Linked DNA regions of Homo sapiens. The protein of the gene in region 3 purifies or fractionates together with the protein of the main gene of each other region. This does not show direct contact. Each region holds a gene or a part of one and is shown on either strand. Other genes may lie near its edges.

Region 1 (7,425 bases), on a different chromosome or scaffold from region 3:
TAGCTGACTTCTTGTCACTTAAGCCTCTATTAAAATATTGTGTCACAAATACCACACACCTCATTCCTGATCACCCTATCAATAAAATGGCTACTCTTATCCTTAGGTTGCTGCCTAACTCATTAACCTGTCAGTTTCTTCAAATCACTTACCGTTAACTGTCTGCCACTACTACCAAAAAAATGTATGGTCTGTTAAAAACTCACTACTGTATTCCAAATACCTAAAACAGTACCAGGCATTTAATAATAATAGATAACCCTGTGCTACATATTTAAGTGCTTTAGATGTACTTATTCAGTTAACCCTTACAACAACCTTGTCCAAACAGTGGGCAAGCACTATTGCTATCTCCAACGAACAGATGGAAAAAAGAGGCTGAGGGAGGTTAACTTAAAATTTGCCCAAAGTCACAGAGCAGGCAAATGGCACTGCCAGGATCTGAACCCAGGCAGTCTAGCTCTTGACTACCACACATACTGCCTACTGTTTCTGATATTAGACATAAAGGAAACACTTAAAAAAACCTGTTAAATGGGATGGGCGCGGTGGCTCATGCTTGTAATCCCAGCACTTTGGGAGGCCAAGGCAGGCGGACCACCTGAAGTCAGGAGTTCGAGACCAGCCTGACCAACGTGGTGAAACCCTGTCTCTACTAAAAATACAAAAATTAGCCAGATGTAGTAGCAGGCGCCTGTATTCCCAGCTACTTGGGAGGCTGAGGTGGGAGAATCGCTTGAACCCGGGAGGAGGAGGCTGCAGTGAGCCAAGATCCCACCACTGTACTCCAGCCTGGGTGACAAGAGCAAGACTCTGTCAAAAAACAAACAAACAAAACAAAACAAAAAAACCCTGTTAAATGAATAAATTTTAAAGGAAAAAAACTAATCTAAATATGCAAATCTGACAAAGTATACTTATTATAGTAACATATTATTTATAGCAGTGCTCGTCCCATTTTCACAGCATGGCCTTCAAAAAACGTATCTGTACTAAACACTGGCAAGCAGAGATAATTCCCAGGTACAGGGAACCAGTCTGGAGCATTTGGAGCTGAACCACTGTGAGAGCTGAGATCAATATACTGGCAGAAGTGGAGGCCATTCCTAGTTCTGAGAAGCTCTAGTTGTCAATTAAAAGATTCTAAAAACAATGCGATGGCATCAAATTCAGGCTTGGAATCCAACTTTCTAGTCCTAGCATTGATAAATAAGCCAAAGAATTTGTAAACAAAGGTAATTAAAATGTTATCATTTATCTCACCAAACACTGGCACATATCAAATGATACCAGCTTCTAGCTAATTAAACGGATAGCTATTAAAAAAACTGATTCCAATTACCAAGGCAAATCAGAAGATAGCTGTGTTCTAAGAGATCACCTACCTAATAAAAAACACACACATACACAATATACCCTGTTTGGGCATTGTAACAAAATATAAAAATTAACAAAATTTGTTTCTTTTCTTTTTTTTTGAGACAGGGTCTCTCTCTGTCACCCAGACTGGAGTGCAGTGGCACGATCTCGGCTCACTGCAGCCTCGATCTCTCTAGACTCAAGCGATCCTCTCATCTTAGCCTCCCGAGTAGCTGGGACTACAGGCGTGCATCACCTACGCCCAGCTAATTTTTTTGTATTTTGTAGAGACGCGGTTTCGCCATGTTGCCCAGGCTAGTCTAAGAACTCCTGAGCTCAAGCGACCCGCCTGCTTCGACCTCCCAAAGCGCTGGGATTGCAAGCGTTTGAGCCACTGCGCCCGGCCAAAGTTTTTTATTATCTACTTTCCTATCATTTTATCCCTAGTACACTTTCACTTGCTGTTTTCCTTGCATGGCGGGGGCAATAGGCCTGGTGGGTAAATCTGAATAAAAACGAGAACAGCTGCAGTCTAACTAGCTCTGCCACTTAATGGCGTGACTGGCCCTTTTCAGAAAGTTGTGCCTCACTGGAATGTTTCAAAAATATGTAAAAATAATATGATCTATAAGACAATCAAAAACGCTTCAAATAAGGCGCGGGTTATATTACATAATATCCCTCCACTCTGGCAGTGTTGGCAATGGCAGACAACACCATGAAACTGAAAGCATCCCTTCAGTCTGAAACTGGCGAAAAGGCTACAGGTTTACAAAGTCTCACATCAGCTGAAAATAATACATCCATCAATTCTATCTTTGGCATGGTGTATTCTGACAGTGGTGGATAGAATGTAACCACTTGCTTTATTAATTATGAGATGATTGAAAGAGGAACTACTAACCAAGAAATTGGTAAAGGCCTAGCACAAATATTTTCCCCCTAATTTTACAGGGGCGGGAAAGACCTGAAGAACTTCAAAACCAAGTGGGAAATAAGAATGGGTAACTTGTGTATTTTTTTTTCCTGGCTTTTTTTTTTTCCTTCTTCCGAAGTCAACAAAGGCCTCAGGGTGTCCAGATTGCTACTGATTCATTCTTACCAAGTTCCTTCTGGTAATAGTTTTCAAAAGAGGATCTCAGTGGAGGTGCACAGTGGCGCTCCTAGCTTTCTTTTTACGGAAAGGAGGAAAGGTGCTTGGCACCAGTCGGGGAAGCTCACGCCAAGTGACCGAGACCAGAACTCGCTCTCGACCGGAGCCCCCCAAGTCTGGTGACTTGGAGGAAGGAGGATCCCGAATCCCAGCCAGAACTGAGAAAGCCCTCAAAGGTGCGGAAAGGGGACTTTTCCCTCAGGAAAGCCGGCAACAGCAGAGGCCCTAGCCCACGTCGCCACACCCACTCCGCGCGCGCCCCTCGCCTCCCAGGGCCGGCTCTGCTCGGCCCCGCGGCCTCTCGGGCGCCCCCAGCCCGCCGGAAAGAAAGAAGCAGAAACCCGGAGCCTGGGTCCCACCCGCGACCCCTCACCTTCGCCCTTCTCGTCCTCTCACCTGCCAGTCCCCCAGGAAGAACAGGACGCCTCTTCCCCCTGATGGGCGGCCACAGGCTCGGATCCTTCCATTGCCGCCTGAGACACCGCCGCCGGCTACTGGAAGGTAGGAAGGGGCGGGACCGTGGGGGGGTCAAGGGGCGGGCGGAGACGTCATCAGAGGGGGCGGGCCTGGGGAAGCTAGGAGCCCGGCAGCGCCTTCCCGTCAACCCTAGGGGCGTCCTGGTTTCCGGTTTGGGTGTGGCCGCATGGCGTGCTGTGGTGCAGGTGGCCGAAGGGGGCGTTACTGTTGCGACTGGCATCCGCATCCGGCAGATGTAGATGGAACCAAAGTCCAGAAGTTACGCGTCACCCTTGCTCTACAGCCAAACATGCAGGACTCTAGTAACCCGCGAAATGATGGGATAGCGTTGCAAATCCTTAAAAGAGTCTTAACGGTAAGAAGAGGAAACAGCTTTATTTTATAAATAAACTGAAGGCTGCTAATAGCTCCAGATTGTCAGTGAGGGGATACCACTTAAAGATGTTATACATTTAATAAATAATTTTGGGAGTCCACTACATGTGAGGCGCTGCCTCAGATTTAATAGAATCATGTGACTTTTAGTGCCATAGATGTCGTTAGATCATCCAGTTTGGTCCCTTAAATTTGTGGGTAAGGGAAAGGAACTTCCGGTCAGTGCAAGTGACTTGGTCAAGGTTATAGAGCTAGTCACTGTTAGATTACCAGAACACATATCTAAAAAGTTCTCATATAATTCTTTTTCATTTACTTCCGTGTCACCTTTCTTAGAAAGCAAAAATGAGTTGGACACAATAACATTAGGATTTGTCTTTCACTAAATAACACTGTATATTTGAATAAACATCTGCAGGATTTTTAAAATTAGCATATACTTTGGGTATTATGTAATTTTCTGTGATGTATCATATTTTTAATTAGAAATTTTTCCTCTCATATGGAGATGAGGGTCCAGGCAAAACTGTATTATCCTTCGTGCCCTCTATTCTCTTCAAAATTGCACATCTTAAAATACCTGGAAGCTTTATGTTGCTCACCTATAGCATTATCCGTGTTCCTCAATCCAGTTGTGAACCTTTTCCACATTAAAATGTTCTTGATCTGTGTTCTATTCTTTCAAGGCTCTGCTCTAGCACTAAGATAATGCTACAGGACTGAAGATAATGAAAAAGATTGAAGAAAGCAGAAACAGAACAAAAATCAGATTATTTCAAAGTTTCTTTCCTTGTAAAGGTTAAAACAGAGCATACTTCCTTATTATGCCCACTAGGTTAACTAGAATCTCCTGTTTTTTTAAAAAAAACTGGCTCATTTTTTCAAAATCCACTTTAATTACATGGTGCTTAGCACAAGCAACTCCATTCTGGTTTGATCTGATGGGGCCTAGTGTAGAAGGCTAGGCCAAAACAATGGCCTGCCATTACCCACGCTTCTTCATATTTTAACATCCATGAATAGAGGATGAATTTTTAAAAAATAAATACAGAAAACGATGCATCTTAAAATTGAGGGCATGTTAGATTTGATAAAATATGGTGTGAATTATTTCAGGCATGTAACAAGCAACCAGATTTAACAGATTTTAATGTTTTGTCACATATGTAAAATGGGAAAGAAAACTAGGCGATCACAGCTTTTTGACAGTGAGGCTTTATGTCATAAGAAAGTAGAATGACATATTGAGGAAACTTAAGGGAAAAATATGTAGGCCAAAGATTTTACATTCAGCAAAACTAATATACAAAAGGTACAAACTGTTATCAACAATTGATATATCAATTTGGTGAGACTAGTGTTTTCATGAGCCCCTCCTTAATAATTAATTGGAGAAAGTGTCTGACAATCAGAATTATTACAGAAACATTGATCTAAGGATTGACTCGGTTTCTTTACAGCAAATCATAATCTGTTGCATTTATTAGCTTTTGTGTTTCTTGTAGTTTATTCTTTATTACTAATTCTCCTGAGTTCTGTCACCTCATTTCTGAGGTTTTTCTAATTCAGAATCAAGTTCTTCCATATCTTTTATCATTTCTCTAATGTCATTTAGCTAGTTTCAAAATAATAAATTGTTTTGTAGTGCATCTTTCAGGCATGTTTTTATTATCTTTGATGATGATGTTATATTCCTTATTCTCTTCACATAATAACTGCATGGATTTGAACTTGATGCTTTTTTTGTTGCTCTTTTTTTTTTTTTTTTTTTTTTTTTTTTGAGACAGAGCCTTGCTCTGTTGCCCAGGTTGGAGTGCAGTGGCGGGATCTTGGCTCACTGCAAGTTCTGCCTCCCGGATTCACGCCATTCTCCTGCCTCAGCCTCCCGAGTAGCTGGAACTACAGGCACCTGCCACCACGCCCGGCTAATTTTTTGTATTTTTAGTAGAGACGGGGTTTCACCGTGTTAGCCAGGATGGTCTCGATCTCCTGACCTCGTGATCCACCCCTTGGCCTCCCAAAGTGCTGGGATTACAGGCGTGAGTTATTGCTCATTTTTATGTGAAATTGGTGTTCCTGAACTAATATGAGACAGGCTTCTTAGCCCAATAAGCCTAAGTTTATCAGGAACAAAACTGTATTCCAAGAAAGTCAGGTATATTAGTCTGTTTTCACACTGCTATAAAGAAATACCCGAGACTGGGTAATTTATAAAGGAAAGAGATTTAGTTGACTCACAGTTCCACATGGCTGGGGAGTCCTCAGGAAACTTAAATCATAGCAGAAGGTGAAGGAGAAGCAAGACATATCTTACACGGTGGCAGGAGAGAAGTGAGATCGTGGGAAAACTGCCACTTTTAAAACCATCAGATCTCATGAGAACTCCCTCATTATCACAAGAATAGCATGGGGGAACTGCCCCCATAATCTAATCACCTCCCACCAGGTCTCTCCTTGCACACATGGGAATTAAAATTTGAAGTGAGATTTGGGTGGGGACACAGAGCAGACCATATCATCAGGTTTACTGGCTCATTGCAAGGAGGGAGCCCACATTCCAGAAGAACCATGGGGTACCTCACCAACAGAGGAAGAGATAGATTTATTGTAGGAATTTGGGGAAGTATGGAGTTTAGAAGGAATTGAAATGAAGTAGTGCTTTGATAGACTCAAAAGAAAGCAAGGCTGTTTGTAAAGAATTCTACACTACATCTAAACTATTACTAATGGCAAAAACTGCAATTACTTTTGCACCAACGTAATACAAGATGGACCCAGGGTTCTGTTTTTTGGAAATTGCAAAGTTCTGCCTCTCAGAAGTAGAAACTATTTCTCTGTGTCAATGTGACTTTAGATATTCTAGCCAAGAGTGAGATATTTCAATCTTAATAATAGGATTTAAACAGCAGAGTTTTTGACAATCTTTTGATATTGTCATAAATGTTCTATGATTTTAGAGAAAAGGGCATTGTGTGAGTAAAAAATCAGTTACTCTAAGGGTGTGTGTGTGTGTGTGTGTGTGTGTGTGTGTGTGTGTGTGTTTGAGACATTTTAAAGCATCTTCCAGAGAGAAATAGTATTTTCTGTTAATTTCACAGCTGGCTTTATTTATGCCTGTTATCCCATAGCTGATGAATGGCAAAGCAGATTTTTACTTTCTTATTCTATGCTTATTTGCTTTCTCACAGGTTTTGGGAAAACTTTTCTAATTTCAGAGAATTCCCTTTTCTGTTGCTTTTGTGTAATGTTCAGCAATATTATGGTTTTATTTCCTTTTTAAATTAATACATACATAATAAGCATATATTTATGGGGTATTTTGATATTTGCGTACAAGGTATAATGATAAAACCAAGGTAATTGTGATATCCATCACCTCAAACATTGTTTATTTCTTTGTGTTAGGAACATTTCACATCTTGCCTTCTAGCTATTTTGAAATATATGATAAATTATTGTTAACTATAGTCACCCTCTAGTGCTATCGAACACTAGAAATTGTTTCCTCTATCTAATTGTATTTTTGTACCCATTACGCAACCTTTTTCATCCTCCTTACCCCCAACCTTCCCAGCCTCTGGTAACCATCATTCTACTCTCTACTGCCATGAGATCCACTTTTTTAGCTCTCACTTATGAGTGAGAATATGTGCTATTTGTCTTTCTATGCCTGGCATTTCACTTAACATAATGACCTCCAGTTCCATCTATGGTGCTTCAAACTACATGATTTCATGTTTTTGTGTAGATGACACATTTTTAAAATCCATTCATCTGTTGATGGACACTTAGATTGATTCCATATCTTGGCTATTGTGAATAGTACTGTAATAAACATGGGCATGCAGATACCTTTTAAATTTATTGAATTCCGTTTTTGGATGTATACTCAGGAATGGGATTGTTGGATCATGTGGTAGATCTATTTTTAGATTTTTGAGAAACTTCCATACTGTTTTTCATAGTTTCTGTACTAATTTACGTTCCCACCAGCAATGCACTAGTGTTCTCCTTTTGCCACATCCTCACCAGCATCTGTTATTTTCTGCCTTTTTGGTAAT
Region 2 (7,042 bases), on a different chromosome or scaffold from region 3:
CCTGCTTCGGTCCCCACAGCACCCACTCCCTTCCCAGCCCCAGAGCGCCCGAATGTGGTGCTCTGGACCGTGCCTCTGGGCCACACGGGCACTGCCACCACCGCGGCCGCCGCCTCTCACCCAACGCACTACGACGCCCTCATCCTCGTCACCCCTGGGGCCCCCACTGAGAAGGACTGGGCCCAGGTCCAGGCCTTGCTGCTACCAGATGCGCCTCTTGTCTGCGTGCGCACAGACGGCGAGGGCGAGGATCCGGAGTGTCTGGGAGAAGGCAAGATGGAGAATCCCAAGGGCGAGAGCTTAAAGAACGCAGGTGGAGGGGGATTGGAGAATGCACTCAGTAAGGGAAGGGAGAAATGTAGCGCTGGATCGCAGAAAGCAGGCAGCGGGGAAGGTCCTGGGAAAGCTGGCAGCGAGGGTTTGCAGCAGGTTGTCGGCATGAAGAAATCAGGTGGTGGCGACTCAGAGCGGGCCGCTGCGTTAAGCCCGGAGGACGAGACGTGGGAGGTGCTGGAGGAGGCGCCGCCGCCAGTGTTCCCCCTACGGCCTGGCGGACTCCCAGGGCTATGCGAATGGCTGCGGCGAGCGCTCCCCCCAGCCCAGGCAGGGGCACTGCTGCTGGCGTTGCCACCAGCATCTCCCAGCGCTGCCCGAACCAAGGCTGCGGCGTTGCGAGCCGGGGCGTGGAGGCCAGCTCTGCTGGCTAGTCTGGCGGCGGCGGCGGCACCACTCCCAGGGCTGGGCTGGGCATGCGACGTGGCACTTCTGCGGGGTCAGCTGGCGGAGTGGCGACGGGGCCTGGGGCTGGAACCCACGGCACTGGCTCGACGTGAGCGTGCCCTGGGCCTGGCTTCTGGAGAGCTGGCAGCGCGCGCTCATTTCCCAGGCCCGGTGACGCGCGCCGAGGTGGAAGCAAGACTGGGCGCCTGGGCGGGCGAGGGCACTGCTGGGGGCGCAGCACTGGGGGCTCTCTCCTTCCTGTGGCCTGCGGGTGGTGCAGCGGCGACAGGTGGCCTGGGCTACCGAGCGGCTCACGGCGTCCTGCTGCAGGCTCTCGATGAGATGCGGGCTGATGCTGAGGCTGTGCTGGCACCCCCTGAGCCTGCCCAGTGAGGAGTGGGAGGGGGCTTGGGAGTCCAGACTCTGACAGGGGATGCCTGGGCTTAATCCTGGGTGCTTGAAGGGGATGTGGACTCTTGACTTCCAGCTGGGATGTGTGACTTCTTATCACCTGGATTCAGAGAGTCTGGGGGACAGGAATCCTGATTTTTTTTTTTTTTTTTCTTTTTTTTGTGAGACGAAGTCTCTTGTTGCCCAGGCTGGAGTGCAATGGCGCGACCTCGGCTCACTGCAACCTCCGCCTCCCGGGTTCAAGCGATTCTCCTGCCTCAGCGTCCGGAGTAGCTGGGATTACAGGTGCCTGCCACCACACCTGGCTAATTTTTGTATTTTTAGTAGAGACGGGGTTTCACCATGTTGGCCAGGCTGGCCTCGAACTCCTGACCTCAGGCGATCGACCCGCTCCGGCCTCCCAAAGTGCTAGGATTACAGGCGTGAGCCACCGCCCCTGGCCAGGAATCCTGATACCTTTGGGAACCATGGTGAATGACATCTAGACCCTTCTGTCCTGAAGGGAGTTGGTGGCCCAGACTCTAGCAGGGACTATGTCTTTGTCTCCTAGGGAGTAGAAACTGGAGTTACTGGATGTTTAGTCCTCCAGGGAGGCTGGTAGAAGTCCTGTTTCCTAATTGGTGGGGAGGTGTCCATGACTGGGACCTGAACTCCAGTATAGGGGAGGGAGACCTGAGCGCCCCAGGGAGCTGGAACTCTTGGGCTTCAGAGCCTCAGAGGGAAACAGGGTCTACATTTCTCTGGGAGAAAAAGCCTGCACACAGGTCCCCAAGGAGCAGTGGGCTTTGAATCTTGATGGGGTGGCGGAGGCCCCTGGGGTCTGAGACTTCCGGGGTTCTAAGATGGCTGTGGACCTTGGTTCCTAAATATTGGGTAAGGGGAGGTCTGCATCTGGAGGAGGGATCGGGGGCTTGTGCGAGAAAGCTGGAGACTTCTTGATCTCTCCTGGGGAGTGGATGGGTTTCTATAATTGCCCTCCAAAAGCATGTAGGGAGGGTGGTCCCACAAAAATGAGGTGAGGTGGGTAAGAGGTCTGGGCATGGTGGGCTCTGGGAGTAGCCAGGGACCAGGAATGAGGTCTTTTGGGTGTGGAAGGGCAGTAAAGCATACCTCAGAGACAGCTCCTCCAAACCTTGTATTGGGATCCCGGCAACTGCCTCTGTGAGTGTGACTGGGAAGGGATATGACTGCCTTCATCTTCTAGGTGCTGAGCAATTCAGGTGATCTCTGGGGAGTCTGTTTCTCTGTCTCTTTTCTTTAGGAGTTTCTATCTTTTTTTGGCCTTTTTCTCCTGGTATTTAACCATAACCCTTTATGGCCTTGGTGTTTTGTGCACCTTCCTTTTCAGAAGAGCAGCTGTACTGCTGCACTGGTCCAAACACTTCTGTATGGACACCTCGGGTATCCCCAAGAGGCTCTGCTTTCTGATGTACATAGAGGGTGCTGCATTGAGCCAGGGGCCCACCAAATGGGTGGTCAGGCACTTGAGACCATGGGAATATGCCAGGAGTGAATGAAGCAAAGGCAGAAACCACAGTGCCTGGAATGTTCTAGGCTGCTAGCCACATGTGGGGGAAAAGTTGCAGGTTACAGAATTCTTCAGTGTCAAAAACAGAAAAGGAGGATCTGAGAATCCAAGCGATAGAATCCCTTTTGTCGTAGACAGAAAGAGCAAAGTCCAGAGAGGGCAGGCTTGAGGCCCAACAGCACACAGTAAGGCCCTGTGGGTCTGGCCCTTGCCTATTCTCATTCACTGCCCCTTCCCACTCCTGTCCAGCCTGATAGACTTTCCTTCTTTTTTTTTTTGAAATGGAGTCTCACCTTGTCACCCAGTCTGGAGTACAGGGATGTGATGACTGTAGCTGAGATGACAGGCATGTGCCACCACACCTGGCTAATTTTTGTAGTTTAGTAGAGAAGGGATTTCACCCTGTTGGTCAGGCTGGTCTCGAACTCCTGACCTCAGGTGATCCACCCGACTCAGACTCCCAAAGTGCTGGGATTACAGGTGTGAGCCATCATGGCCGCCTGACTCTTTCTGATGCCTGAGTGGCTACCTTGAGTCCTGCCTGGGGACCCATGCACCTGCTGTTCTCTTTCCTTCAAGGCTCTACTCACAACTTCCTGTTCTACTCTCAAACCTTCCTGTGACGGGCTCAGTCAGATCTCAGCTCACGTATCCCCTCAGAGAGGACTTCCCCTCCCTGACCACCCTATCTGAAGTAGCTCACATTCCCCCACTATTCATTTCGGCCAGTTGAGTTTCCTTGTAGCAATTATTACTGTCAAAAATGATCTTATTTATTTACCTGTTTATTGGCTTTTGACCCGTTGCCTGTCCTGTTCTCTGTTGTTTCCCCAGCATCTAGAACAATAGGTGCCTGACACAATAGGTGCTTCGTAAATATTTATTATTATTATTATTATTTTAGAGACAGGGTCTTGCTCTGTTGCCCCGGCTGGAATACAGTGGGATGATCATGGCTCACTGCCATCTCCAACTCCTGGGCTCAAACGATCCTCCCACCTCCGCCTACAGAGTAGCTGGGACTATAGGTACACAGCACCAAATTTTCTGTAGAGACGGGGGTCTTGCTTTGTAGCCCACACTAGTGTTGAACTCCTGGCCTCAAGTGATCCTCCTGCCTTGATGGGATTACAGGTGTGAGCCACCACACCCAGCCTAAATGTTTATTTCATTGGTCAGTGTCAGAACTAGGATTGGAATTTAGATTGTTAATCTCTTGCCACAAGATAGGAAAATGGAGCAAGATGAGGAGAAAAAAGCATTTAATGGGAGAGAACACCCTTGTCTGAGGTCAGGGACCTGGGAAGCAAGCACGACTTTGCCACTGTCACTGTGTGTTACTTGGACAGTGCCTTATTTTCCCATCTGTGAAATAAAAGAGCTGGATAAGAACCTTAGTTTTGAGATCCTGTCTCCCTTAAAAGCTGAAGACAAAGGTAACTGATCCAAGGGCAGACAAGGGATGGTACCATCATCTCCAGCTTGGACTCCCACTGCTGACAAAATTTGTCCCTTCAAAGTTGAGATAGCTACCATGGGGAAGAGCACTTAGTTCTATACTGAATGGCTCCAGGCATTTTCATGAAAGCTCTTTCAGCTTTGGGGAAGAATATTCATCCATATCTTTACCCCATCATATTAGTGTCTAAGCCCTGCAATCAGGCATGTCAGCCACGTGATGGAATGGGAGGGCTGCAGGGCAGCACTGTCCAGTAGAAACGAAATGCAAGCCACATATGTCATTTTAAGTTTTCTTTTTTTGAGATGGAGTTTCACTCCATCACCCAGGCTGGAGTGCAGTGGCACGATCTCGCCTCACTGCAACCTCCGCCTCCCAGGTTCATGTGATTCTCCTGCCTCAGCCTCCTGAGTAGCTGGGATTACAGGCATATGCCACCATGCCTGGCTAATTTTTGTATTTTTAGTAGAGATGGGGTTTCACCATGTTGATCAGGCTGGTCTGGAACTACTGACCTCAGGCCACCCGCCTTGGCCTCCCAAAGTGCTGGGATTACAGGCATGAGCCACCGCGCCCAGCTAATTTTTGTATTTTTATTTTATTTATTTATTTATTTTTTGGGAGACGGAGTCTTGCTCTGTCACCCAGGCTGGAGTGCAGTTGTGCGATCTTGGCTCACTGCAACCTCAGCCTCCCAAGTAGCTGGGATTACAGGCATGCACCATCATGCCCAGCTAATTTTTGTATTTTTAGTAGAGATGGGGTTTCACTGTGTTGGCCAGGCTGGTCTTGAACTCCTGACCTCAGGTGATCCACCGGCCTCAGCCTCCCAAAGTGCTGGGATTATAGGCGTGAGCCACTGCACCCGTCCTAATTTTTGTATTTTTAGTAGAGATGGGGTTTCACCATGTTGGCTAAGCTGGTCTGGAACTCATGGCCTCAAGTTATCTGCCCACCTCAGCCTCCCAAAGTGCTGAGTAAGCCAAGTTTTCTAATAGCCACATTAGACAAGTAAAAGGAAACAGGTTAAATTCATTTTAACATGTTTTACTTAACCCAATGTATCCAAAATAGCATTTCAACATGTCATCGGTTTTTTAGTTTTTTTTTTTTTTGAGATAGTGCTTCGCTTTGTTGCCCAGGCTGGAGTGCAGTGGCACAATCTCGGCTCACTGCAACCTCCACCTTCCAGGTTCAAGTGATTCTCCTGCCTCAGCCTCCCGAGTAGCTGGGATTACAGGCACCCGCCACCATGCCCACTAATTTTTGTATTTTTGGTTAGAGATGGGGTTTCGCCATGTTGGCCAGGCTAGTCTCAAACTCCTGACCTCAGGTGATCCACCCACCTCGGCCTCCCAAAGTGCTAGGATTACAGGCGTGAGGCACCGTGCCTGGCGTCATCGGTATTATTTAAATGAATTATGTTACGTTCTTTTGTGCTGTCTTCAAAATCTGTTATATATTTTACACTTACACCAAATCTCAATTACCATGGTACATTTTTATCTGAAATGCTTGACCTTTATTTTGATTTCATAAAATTCATAGTTGGAGAAGTAGATTCACATATCCAAGTTGTTCCAATTATATAATAGTTTTCCAAAAACTGAGATGGGTGTCCATTTTTTTTTTAAGTAAAGATGCAGGTCTGGTTATGTTGACCAAGTTGCTGGGTTGTTTTGTTTTGTTTTGAGACAGAGTCTCACTTTGTCACCCAGGCTGGAGTGCAGTGGCATGACCTCAGCTCACTGCAACCTCTGCCTCCCAGGTTCAACTGATTCTCTTGCATCATCCTCCTGAGTAGCTGGGACTACAGGTGTATGCCACCATGCCTGGCTAATTTTGGTATTTTTCTCAGAGACGGGGTTTCACCATGTTGGGCATGCTGGTCTTGAACTGCTGACCTCAGGTGATCCGCCCACCTCGGCCTCCCAAAGTGCTGGTATTACAGGCATGGGCCACCACACCTGGCCTCAGCTGTTCAATTAAAAGTAAATACAACTTAAAATTCTATGTTTCATTGGCAGTAGTGCAACATTAATACTGAGTAGCCACATGTGATTAGTGGCTATGGTATTGGACAGGGAAGGTACAGAATACTTCCATCAACATAGAAAATTCTATCAGTCTAGCTCTAGGGGCAGATAGTCCTTCCACTGACTTGGGCAAGTCACTCTACAAATGGCATCTACCTCACATGGTTATGGTGAGAATTCAGCGTATGTATGTACATGCAGGCACACAATATGCACACAGACACATAACATAGTACACCCTTTCCTGAAAAGCCTGACACATGGAGCTCAAACATGAGTGCCACCCACCCCTGGGCAGCACCAAGATGGCTCTAGTCTGGGTGCCTTTGTCTCACCCCCATGCCTTTGCTCGGAGTGTGCTCCTCATTTTTCTGCCACTTTGACCCTGTCTCTGATTTGGTCCTGTCTGACATCACTGCTATATGCTTTGCTCCTCTCAATTTCCTCTGCCCTCATGCCAGCAGGAGTCATGCCAGAGATCATATCTGAGAAAGCAAGACAATTTTGTGTGTGTGTCTGTGCCCATAGAGGAGTGCTGGTTGTGTTGATATAGTTGTAGATTGGTTGTGTTTACACAGTTGTATATATTGACACCCTTGAGTGTTATGACTTCTTTTGGGGGTGGTCGCCTTTTAAATCATAACTTTTAATGGGATTCCATTTTAGTCTTTGTGAAGACATAAGGTTGTTGGCAGGCATCTGTCCCTGGGAGCATCCAAGCAGAAAAGACTAAGACTCCCTTGTAGACAGATCACTGGCCGCCACTGAAGTGTGTCTGCATGGCACCACAGGGCTGGAAGACCCTTGAAGGCAGGAATTCAAGGAAATGTATGATGAATTTTGGCATTGCCATCAAAAGCAGAACAGGCATGGAAAACTTGGGTGAGT
Region 3 (6,000 bases):
AAAAAGCAGAGTTTAGAATTCCTATTAAAACTATAGTCCTAAAATTTGATTTTATTCCCCCAAGAAGTAGTTCAGTGAATACAAAGGAGAAATATATATTAAACTTATAGCATTTCTCACCTATGTGATATTTAACAATCCCTTAAAAATCATAAATGGTGAAAAATAATGCATAAGAAAAAAAGAATGGATAATAGAAATTATTTTATATTTCCAGTTTCATGTATCATTGTGGCTTTGGTCTGTGAACATATATTCCATTTGATTTCTAGATGAAATTTCATTTAAAAATATTCATTATTTTGGAGAACCTAACAAAGATATATAGAATCATAGTAAAGTCAACATGCCATGATCTTGAATCAGTTTGGTAACTTTCTTTATCCCTAACTGGATACAACTATTAACAGAATGTGTTTACTGAGAAAATATTCTAATAAAAAAATGTAGATATAAACTAGACTTTGAAAGTAACTAAAATATGCTCTTTAGTTGAGATTTTTAGCCAAACAATCACAGAAAGGAAGAGGTCCTTTTCCTGCTAATTACATTCGCTAAAGCCTTCTTTACTTCCTTACTCCTGAGGCTGTAGATCAGAGGATTCAACATGGGAATCACCACTGTGTAGAACACAGAAGCCACTTTGTCCTGATTCAGGGAGTAGCTGGAACTAGGTCTCAGGTAAGTATAGATGCAGGTGGCATAGAACAGAATTATGGCTGTCAGGTGAGAGGCACACGTGGAGAAAGCTCTGTGCCTCCCCTCCCCCGAATGCATAGAAAAAATGGAGAAGAGAACGTAGGAGTAGGAGGAGAGGATGACAAGCAGAGTCCCCACAATATTCACACCAGCCAAAATAGAACTTATGCTTTCTTTCAGGATTGTGTCAGAACAAGAGAGCTTGAAAAGTGGGGGACTGTCACAGAAGAAGTGATGGATGACATTGGAGTCACAGAATGACAAGCTGCTGACATGGCTTGTGTTGACCATGAAGTTCAGCAACCCTGCAGCAAAAGCCCCGGCTGCCATTTTTAGGTAGACGGTCCTGGACATGATCAAGGAGTAAAGCAGCGGGCGACATATGGCCGCATACCTGTCATAGGCCATTAACCCAAAGAGGATGCATTCGGTTGTCGCCAGGGAGATAAAGAAGTACATCTGTAGGAAGCAGCCAGCAAAAGAGATGGTTTTCTTCTCTGATAATAAATCTGCCAGCATCTTTGGGGTGATGGTAGTTGAGTTACAAACGTCCACAAAGGACAGGTTAGCCAGGAAGAAATACATGGGTGTGTGAAGCTGGGAATCGATCCTGATTAAGAGGATCATCCCGAGATTTCCCAGTACTGTAAGTGTATAAATCACAAGAAAAAACAAAAAGAGGATAATCTGTAGCTCCAGCGTGTCTGCTAATCCCAATAGGACGAACTCAGTCAGTGAGGTATAATTTTTTCTGGTCATTTATGAGAAATATATTTTGTGTAAACTTTGTATTAGTTGCACATATTTTCCTCTCTAAAAGTTTACAAAAAAAAAAAAAAAGAAGTGTTAATAGGACAGTCACATATGGCAAATAAATAAACAAAAACCCAGAATAATATGTCATAATTACTGAAGTAAGAGGAATATTAGAGGACCCATGGGTAAGCATTTACATGTAATAAACAATTGATTGTATTGAATTGGAGTTGTAGGCTTCTCAAATCACTGGCTGAAGTCCACATACTCTATTTCTGTGAATACAAATACTTTGTTCTATTGTTTCTATACTAGCCCACATCCAAAATGTAAAATAATAAAAATATTCTTGCTAAAATTTCTCCCATTCTCAGAGCAGGTATGTGAATTTAACTCAATGCATTCTTTTTTAATTTTCTCAAAATCACTCTGTACATTCTTCAACTCCAAAATTCATACTTTATCTCTTGAGAATGGCTTATGTGTAGCCCTAAGCAGCAAAAAGAGTGACCATTTCAAATAATCAATATTTTCACATCTATTGTATCCTTAAAAATAATTTAGTGATGTTTTAAAAGTAAACCAAATGATTGTTATACTACAATGTCCATTATCAAGTTAATTCCAAGAAGCAGCCGACAGGGTACCTATCCACCTTACTTAATAACATTACCAAATCTTTAAAACTTCCTCCCCAGATGGCTACTTACCTAAGTAAGTAACTATTATTTTTTTTTTATCAGAGGTTCTTAGTTGGAGCTTAAAAATAAAAGAAGAAAATTTAATTTAAAAAATGCAGTGGAAAATTGAATTATCTATTGGTAAAATCTTAAGATGCCTTATGATTAAATACTTGTTACTGCACTTGTATTTTGTTTTTCTCCAAGAAGACAGGGTAACCATGGGGAGTAGATTATAGCTATTAATTGCAGAGTCAATTCTCTACAGGCAGGAGCTCTGTCTCAAAACAATATTAAATATAATATGATCACATAGAGATGTATGGAATCAGACATTATGAAAGTCTTACATCATAAAGTGGTTTGTGACCTCTGGAAAATAATTGTCTATCTACACTGACTCTCTCTGTGTCTGTATTTTTAGCTTATTCTAAGTGCGTGACTAAACTATCGTTCTCCCCCTGTGCCATTTTAGTATGTGGGTGCACCCCTCTTTTTTTCGGTGTGACTTAAAATTCAGCTATTTTCCTGTATAAAGGTAGTGAGAAAGGGTAGTTAATAAATATCTATTGTATGATTTTTAAAGAAATCCTATAACCTGAGCAAATAGCACAATAGATTTAAAAATTATTATATATTTATGATTTTGAAATTGTGTTGGTTTTTGCCGTTACTATTTGTGATTCTTATCCTGCAAAGACATGAAGCTATAGATTTTCTAGATCTAAATTCAAAAAGAAGACAACGTAAAATATACTACATTGGGTATTCAAATGCAAAGAGAGTCTATTTGCATAGGGAACTCATAATGCAGCAATTGCTATGTTAATTATTTTGTTTAAATTCTCAATTACTTCTCTCAACCAGTCTTTCAGGTTGACATTATTATTCGCACATTTTATAGATGAAAAAAGTAAGGCTTTAATCTGTTAAACAACTTCCCCAAAGATAAACTGTTGGTAAGTAGAGGAATAAACTTGAACACAATCTTCAACATAAAGAACTAATACCTAGCTCGCTATTTCCTATCATGCTCCATTTTAGCTTATATGTGTATATATATGTGTGTATGTTTACGTGTATGTGTATATGTAGCGTGTGTGTATGTATATCTCATAGTGAATCTAATCCTCCAATCTTCAAAGCACGTAGGAGACATCAGCATCTAAAGGGAGGCCTCTAACATAATGCAAGAAATTTGTTAAAAAGTTGACTTTTAAAGATCTCACCATCATGTCTGATATGGTTTGGCTGTGTCCCTACCCAAATCTCATCTTGAATTGTAGTTTCCATAATCCTCACATGTCATAGGAGGGACACCATGGGAGGTAATTGAATCATGGGAGTGGTTACCCTAATGCTGTTCTTTTGTGATAGTGAGTGAGTTCCCATGAGATCTGATGGTTTTATAAGGGACTTTTCACTCTGTTGCTCATTCTACTTCTCCTTGCTGCTGCCATGTGAAGAAGAATATGTTTGCTTCCCCTTCTGCCATGATTGTAAGTTCCCTGAGGCCTCTCCAGCCATGCTTAACTGTGATTCAATTGAACTTCTTTCCTTTATAAATTACCCCATCTTAGGTACATCTTTATTAGCAGTGTGAGAATGGACTAATACAATGCCATCAAGACCTATGCCATGATTGATTATTACCTATTATATTTTCAATATTTATCTGCTTATGTATGTAAGAATACATAACTTAAGGAATGAAAGTATGTGAAATAATTTTTACTGGAGAAACTCAACTGTGAATTGAAAGAGATGGAGGAAAAACAATATATTCTCAATTCATGAATTTTGTTAGAATCAAGGAGAGAAGATAATACTATGAAAAAAGAAGAGATTGATGTTATCAAACCTTAAAAAAGCAAAGACTGAAAAAGTAGAATGAACTGGAAGTTTTAATTTAAAGTTTTGAAAGGAGTTTATTCAGGAAGAAGCAGAAAGAACAATGAATAAAAATACTTTAATTCATGAATGTTTAAATGGGGACAATACGGCCTTAGAAACCATTAATTTCTTAAAGCCATTGTGGTATAGCTTTCCTACAAAAAACTTTCATTTTTTTTCTTTTTTTAAATTATTATTATACTTTAAGTTTTAGGGTACATGTGCACAACGTGCAGGTTTGTTACATATGTATACATGTGCCATGTTGGTGTGCTGCACCCATTAACTCGTCATTTAGCATTAGGTATATCTCCTAATGCTATCCCTCCCCTCTCCCCAACCCCACAACAGTCCCCGGTGTGTGATGTTCCCCTTCCTGTGTCCATGTGTTCTCATTGTTCAATTCCCACCTAGGAGTGAGAACATGCAGTGTTTGGTTTTTTGTCCTTGCGATAGTTTGCTGAGAATGATAGTTTCCAGCTTCATCCATGTCCCTACAAAGGACATGAACTCATCCTTTTTTATGGCTGCATAGTATTCCATGGTGTATATGTGACACATTTTCTTAATCCAGTCTATCATTGTTGGACATTTGGGTTGGTTACAAGTCTTTGCTGTTGTGAATAGTGCCGTAATAAACATACGTGTGCATGTGTCTTTATAACAGCATGATTTATAATCCTTTGGGTATATACCCAGTAATGGGATGGCTGGGTCAAATGGTATTTCTAGTTCTAGATCCCTGAGGAATTGCCACACCGACTTCCATAATGGTTGAACTAGTTTACCAATGGAAAAACTTTCATTCTTAAGGGTACAGTTTGATGAGCTTTGACAACACATACAGTCTTGTAACAACTACCACAATTAAGACAGAATATTTCATTTAGCCTCATAGATTCCATTATATTTCTTTATATTTAATTCCTCTCCTTCCTCTAGTCCCTGACAACCACTGGGAAACCACAGATGTGATTTCTGTAATTCTTTTCCCCTTTTTAGAGTATGATCTAAGTGAAATCATACAGCTTATAGCCTTTCAAATCAGGCCTTCATCTTTACTATGATGTTTTGAAATTCAACCATGTTGTTCTTTTATCACTTTGTTTTTTGTGAGGTTTTTTTGCCTTTATAAAAAAGAAACTTCCAAAAGCAATGGACTAATGGACTACTAAGTAGTAGTCCATTCCATTATGTAAAACTAATTGAGAGAAAATGACATTGTTTCCAAATAAGAGCCATTATAAATAAAGCTTGTCTTTGTATCTACATATTTTTAAAATTTCACTTGGGTAATAACTGGAAGTCTATTGGATCATAAGGTAAGTAAAAGCTATTTAAGAGACTGACAAACTTTGACAACATTTTAAAACGGTGTTTTGTGTCAACACAACAATGTCTGGGAGTTCCCGTTGCTCTAAATCATTACCAGCACTTGGCATTTTCTTTCTTTTACATTTTTTAGCTAGTCTGATAGATGTGCCATTATTTCTCATTGTGGTTTTAATTTGAATTTCCCTAACAACTAATCATTTTAAACATTTTATATGTTTTCTTGCTATCACTATTTTTTGTTGTTTTGGTAAAATGTCCGTGAAAATTTTCTCTTTGGTTGTTCGTTTTATTATTACTGTTTTTTCATAGTTCCTTTTATACCCTGGATACAAGTCCTTTAATGCATATGCACTTTCACAATGCATGCTTTCAGTTTATGCCTTGACTTTACATTTTTGAGAGTAGCTTTTTATAAGCAGAAGGTAATTTCAATTAAGTGAAGCAAGTACATAGATACAAAGACAAGCTTTATTTATAATGGCTCTTATTTGGAAACAATGTCATTTTCTCTCAATTAGTGTTATGTAAGAGAATGGAATACTACTTAGCAGTCATTATTAAGTCCATTGCTTTTGGAAGTTTCATTCTTATAAAGGCAAAAAAGAAAAAAACCCACAGAAACAAATAAAATGATACA
Region 4 (3,194 bases), on a different chromosome or scaffold from region 3:
ATAATCAAATTGGTAGCTAGGTTGCAGTCAGCTTAATAGTTCACCTCTGAGGCCTCTTGGCTAATGTATATATTGGTAACTTTAATAAGAGTGGAGAGATCTGCAGGCAGCATCTTGCTCAAGTCACCAAAGTTAACCTCACCAGTGAGAAGACAACTGAGCATGTACCTCACCTGACTGGCTGCTGTGGGCAGCATCACACCTGACCTGAATCCCTTCACAGACCCAGCAGAGGGCTGTGTACAGAGCAGGTGCTCAGAAAAATCCATGCTGAAGTGAATTAAAAAATAAACAAGATCTTTGGTTTATTATCGGTTACAAAGAAAGAGGAGGTGTGGAAAGCTACTTCCACTGAGATAGCTTTCCTAACTGTTAGGTAGGAAAATGCCAGGGCTCCCACTGGAGGGCAAAGTAGAATCCAGAACACACCCATATTCTTGGTCCATTTCCCAAAGGTCCACGCCTGAGAGATTTCAAGCTGAGTAAAGGAACAAGTCTTCTGAAGATGCAGATTTTGGTTTTATTTCAATTCAGTACAGCATACACTAGTATAACATACTTTTTTTTTTTTTTTTCAAAATCACCAACCAAAACCCATCACTGATACTTTGATTGTCTAGGAAAGAAGGAGCCCCAGCCTTGTCACATACAATCTCTGTCCCTGGTGCAATGTCATCCTCACTGTGCTGTGAAAGGCAAGGCTCTCTCCTCACCCTAATAGCTCCTGTTTCCAGTGCTTGCCTGTCTTTCTTCCCAAGCGTTGGCCGGGCTGTGCTTTCTCAGTTAACCCAAAGGCTCTTGCAGGCCTTTTCCTCTCGGAAGTCCCCTCCCTCTCCCGAGAGAGAGAGCTGCTTTTTTTTCCTTTTTTTTTTTTTTTTTTTTGAGATCGAGTTTTGCTCTGTTGCCCAGTGCAGTGGCATGATCTCGGCTCACTGCAACCTCCACCTCCCAGGTTCAAGCGATTCTCCTGCTTCAGCCTCCCAAGTAGCTGGGACTACAGGTGCGTGCTACCACACCCAGCTAATTTTTTATGTAGAGACGGGGTTTCACCGTGTTAGCCAGGATGGTCTCGATCTCCTGACCTCGTGATCCGCCTGCCTCGGCCTTCCAAAGTGCTGGGATTACAGGCGTGAGCCACCGTGCCCGGCCTCAACTTTTTATTTATTAGCTTGTTGGTCTTCAACCTCTGTAAGCCTCAGTTTCCTCACTTATCAATCATCTACTGCTGTATAGAGACAGGTCCATCTCCTAGCATGCAGGGTGAGGCTAATGTGACATTTGAAAACTCCAGAGTGCTGCTGACAGTGGTTGGAGGTGAAGGAGGAGGAAATAAAAGCAATGTGAGAATAGCTTTAAAGAAAGGAAGGGCAAAAAGTTGAAAAGAAAGAGGCAGTGTGGAGAGATGGAGCCAACAGCAGCATGGGAGTCCCTGGCTAGGGTCAGGGCTTAGATGACGACATTGTTGGTTGGGTTCACTTGCCCTCTGAACTGCACAGGGAATCGAGCTGGTCATTAGACATGGCCTGGAGCCAGTCACTGGAAAAGGAAATCAATACCCAGACTGATTCTCAGAACAGCCACCATTTGTATGATTTTAATCCATAGAATCATTCTGAAAGCTTCTTAATCTTCACCTTTTTTCTGGACAGGAGACAGGTGGCTGAGCCTAGCCCTGGACTGGATCATATCTTCACACTTCCTTAAGCCACAGAAAACTTGAACCAGGTGGTGTGGTCATACTCCTCACCAGGCCTCAGCAGCACAGGAGGGAAGCGGGGCTGTGAAGGGGAAACAACACAGGTGATGCTTGACACCGCAGGCTGCAACATTAACCATTTGGGTGTGCTTCTGGACGGGCTTCTAGACCAGTGCTCTGTGGATGGCTGCCAGTGCGGGAACTGTTTATGATTGGTTCATAGTGAGATAAAGAACTTTAATCAGAGTGAAAAAAGCACACTTTGTTAAAGGAAGGCTTTCCTGATGAAGGGAAGCAGTGTGTTGATCTATAATCTGGTGTAAGGTGTAGGCTTTTTTTTTTTTTTTTTGAGATGGAGTCTTGCTCTGTTGCCCAGGCTGGAGTGCAGTGGGGCGATCTCAGCTCACTGCAAACCCCGCTTCCTGGGTTCAAGCGATTCTCCTGCCTCAGCCTCCAGAGTAGCTGGGATCACAGGCACCTGCCACCATGCCCAGATAATTTTTTTATTTTTACTAGAGACAGGGTTTTGTCATGTTGACCGGGCTGGTCTCGAACTCCTGACCTCAAGTGATACACCTGCCTCAGACTCTCAAAGTGCTGGGATTACAGGTGTGAGCCACCGCACCTGGCCCTTTTTTTTTTTTTTTTTTAAAGACAGGGTCTCATTCTGTTGCACAGGCTGGAGTGCAGTGGTGTGATCATGGCTCACTGCAGCCTTGACCTCCCAGGCTCAGGGATCCTCCCACCTCAGCCTCCCAAGTAGCTGGGGCCACAGGTGTGCACTACCACACCTGGCTAATTTTTCTAATAATCTGTAAAGATGGGGTCTCCCTGTGTTGCCCAGGTTAGCCTCAATCTCAGGCTCAAGCAATCCTCCCGCCTCAGCCTCCCAAAGTGCTGGGATTACAGGCATGAGCCACCTTGCCCAGCCCAAGGTGCAAGCTTCTTATTGTGGGCTGGCACTTTCAGGAGTACTGCTCTGGGTAACAACCAGAAAAGAAAGTTATGAGGGAGCACATAGGAGGAGACGATATGGAAGCTCTCCTTAAGTGTGGCTGCAGAAAACGAGAAGGTATTGTTAAGGAGAAACAAACTGGATAAAGGCTTTGAAGGTACAAAATTTCAGCTTTCTTAAAACCATGTAAATCCCATGTTAGTAGCTTGGCTATGGGTTTTCTGTGACTTGCAGAAGAGAATAAGCATGAACTTTTGAGCCGGGCACAGTGGCTCACGCCTATAATCCTAGCACTTTGGGAGGCCAAGGCAGGTGGATCACCTGAGGTCAGGGGTTTTGAGACCAGCCTGGCCAACATGGTGGAACCCTGTCTCTACTAAAAATACAAAAATTAAGCAGGCATGGTGGTAGGCGCCTGTAATCCTAGCTACTTGGAAGGCTGGGGCAGGAGAATCGCTTGGACCCAGGAGGCGGAGGTTGCAGTGAGCTGAGATCGTGCCCAGGAGGCGGAGGTTGCAGTGAGCTGAGATCGTGCCACTGCAC

What was found.
Region 1: the proteins of OR5F1 (region 3) and UBA6 purify together in Homo sapiens (affinity purification with mass spectrometry; 3 studies listed by BioGRID and IntAct, with this or other methods). This does not show direct contact.
Region 2: the proteins of OR5F1 (region 3) and IRGQ purify together in Homo sapiens (affinity purification with mass spectrometry; 2 studies listed by BioGRID and IntAct, with this or other methods). This does not show direct contact.
Region 4: the proteins of OR5F1 (region 3) and GALM purify together in Homo sapiens (affinity purification with mass spectrometry; 2 studies listed by BioGRID and IntAct, with this or other methods). This does not show direct contact.

What each region holds. Positions count from the first base shown.
Region 1 is NC_000004.12:67,698,141-67,705,565, forward strand, and holds the start of UBA6 (ubiquitin-like modifier-activating enzyme 6), read right to left. Parts: upstream 3,016-7,425; 5' UTR 2,980-3,015; coding exon 2,909-2,979; intron 1-2,908. UniProt on the Homo sapiens protein: Activates ubiquitin by first adenylating its C-terminal glycine residue with ATP, and thereafter linking this residue to the side chain of a cysteine residue in E1, yielding a ubiquitin-E1 thioester and free AMP.
Region 2 is NC_000019.10:43,586,097-43,593,138, reverse strand, and holds part of IRGQ (immunity-related GTPase family Q protein), read left to right. Parts: coding exon 1-1,113; 3' UTR 1,114-7,042. UniProt on the Homo sapiens protein: Autophagy receptor that specifically promotes clearance of misfolded MHC class I molecules by targeting them to the lysosome for degradation.
Region 3 is NC_000011.10:55,993,168-55,999,167, forward strand, and holds OR5F1 (olfactory receptor 5F1), read right to left. Parts: upstream 1,459-6,000; coding exon 514-1,458; downstream 1-513. UniProt on the Homo sapiens protein: Odorant receptor.
Region 4 is NC_000002.12:38,732,072-38,735,265, reverse strand, and holds the end of GALM (galactose mutarotase), read right to left. Parts: intron 1,801-3,194; exon of another isoform or gene 1,779-1,800; coding exon 1,701-1,778; 3' UTR 501-1,700; downstream 1-500. UniProt on the Homo sapiens protein: Mutarotase that catalyzes the interconversion of beta-D-galactose and alpha-D-galactose during galactose metabolism.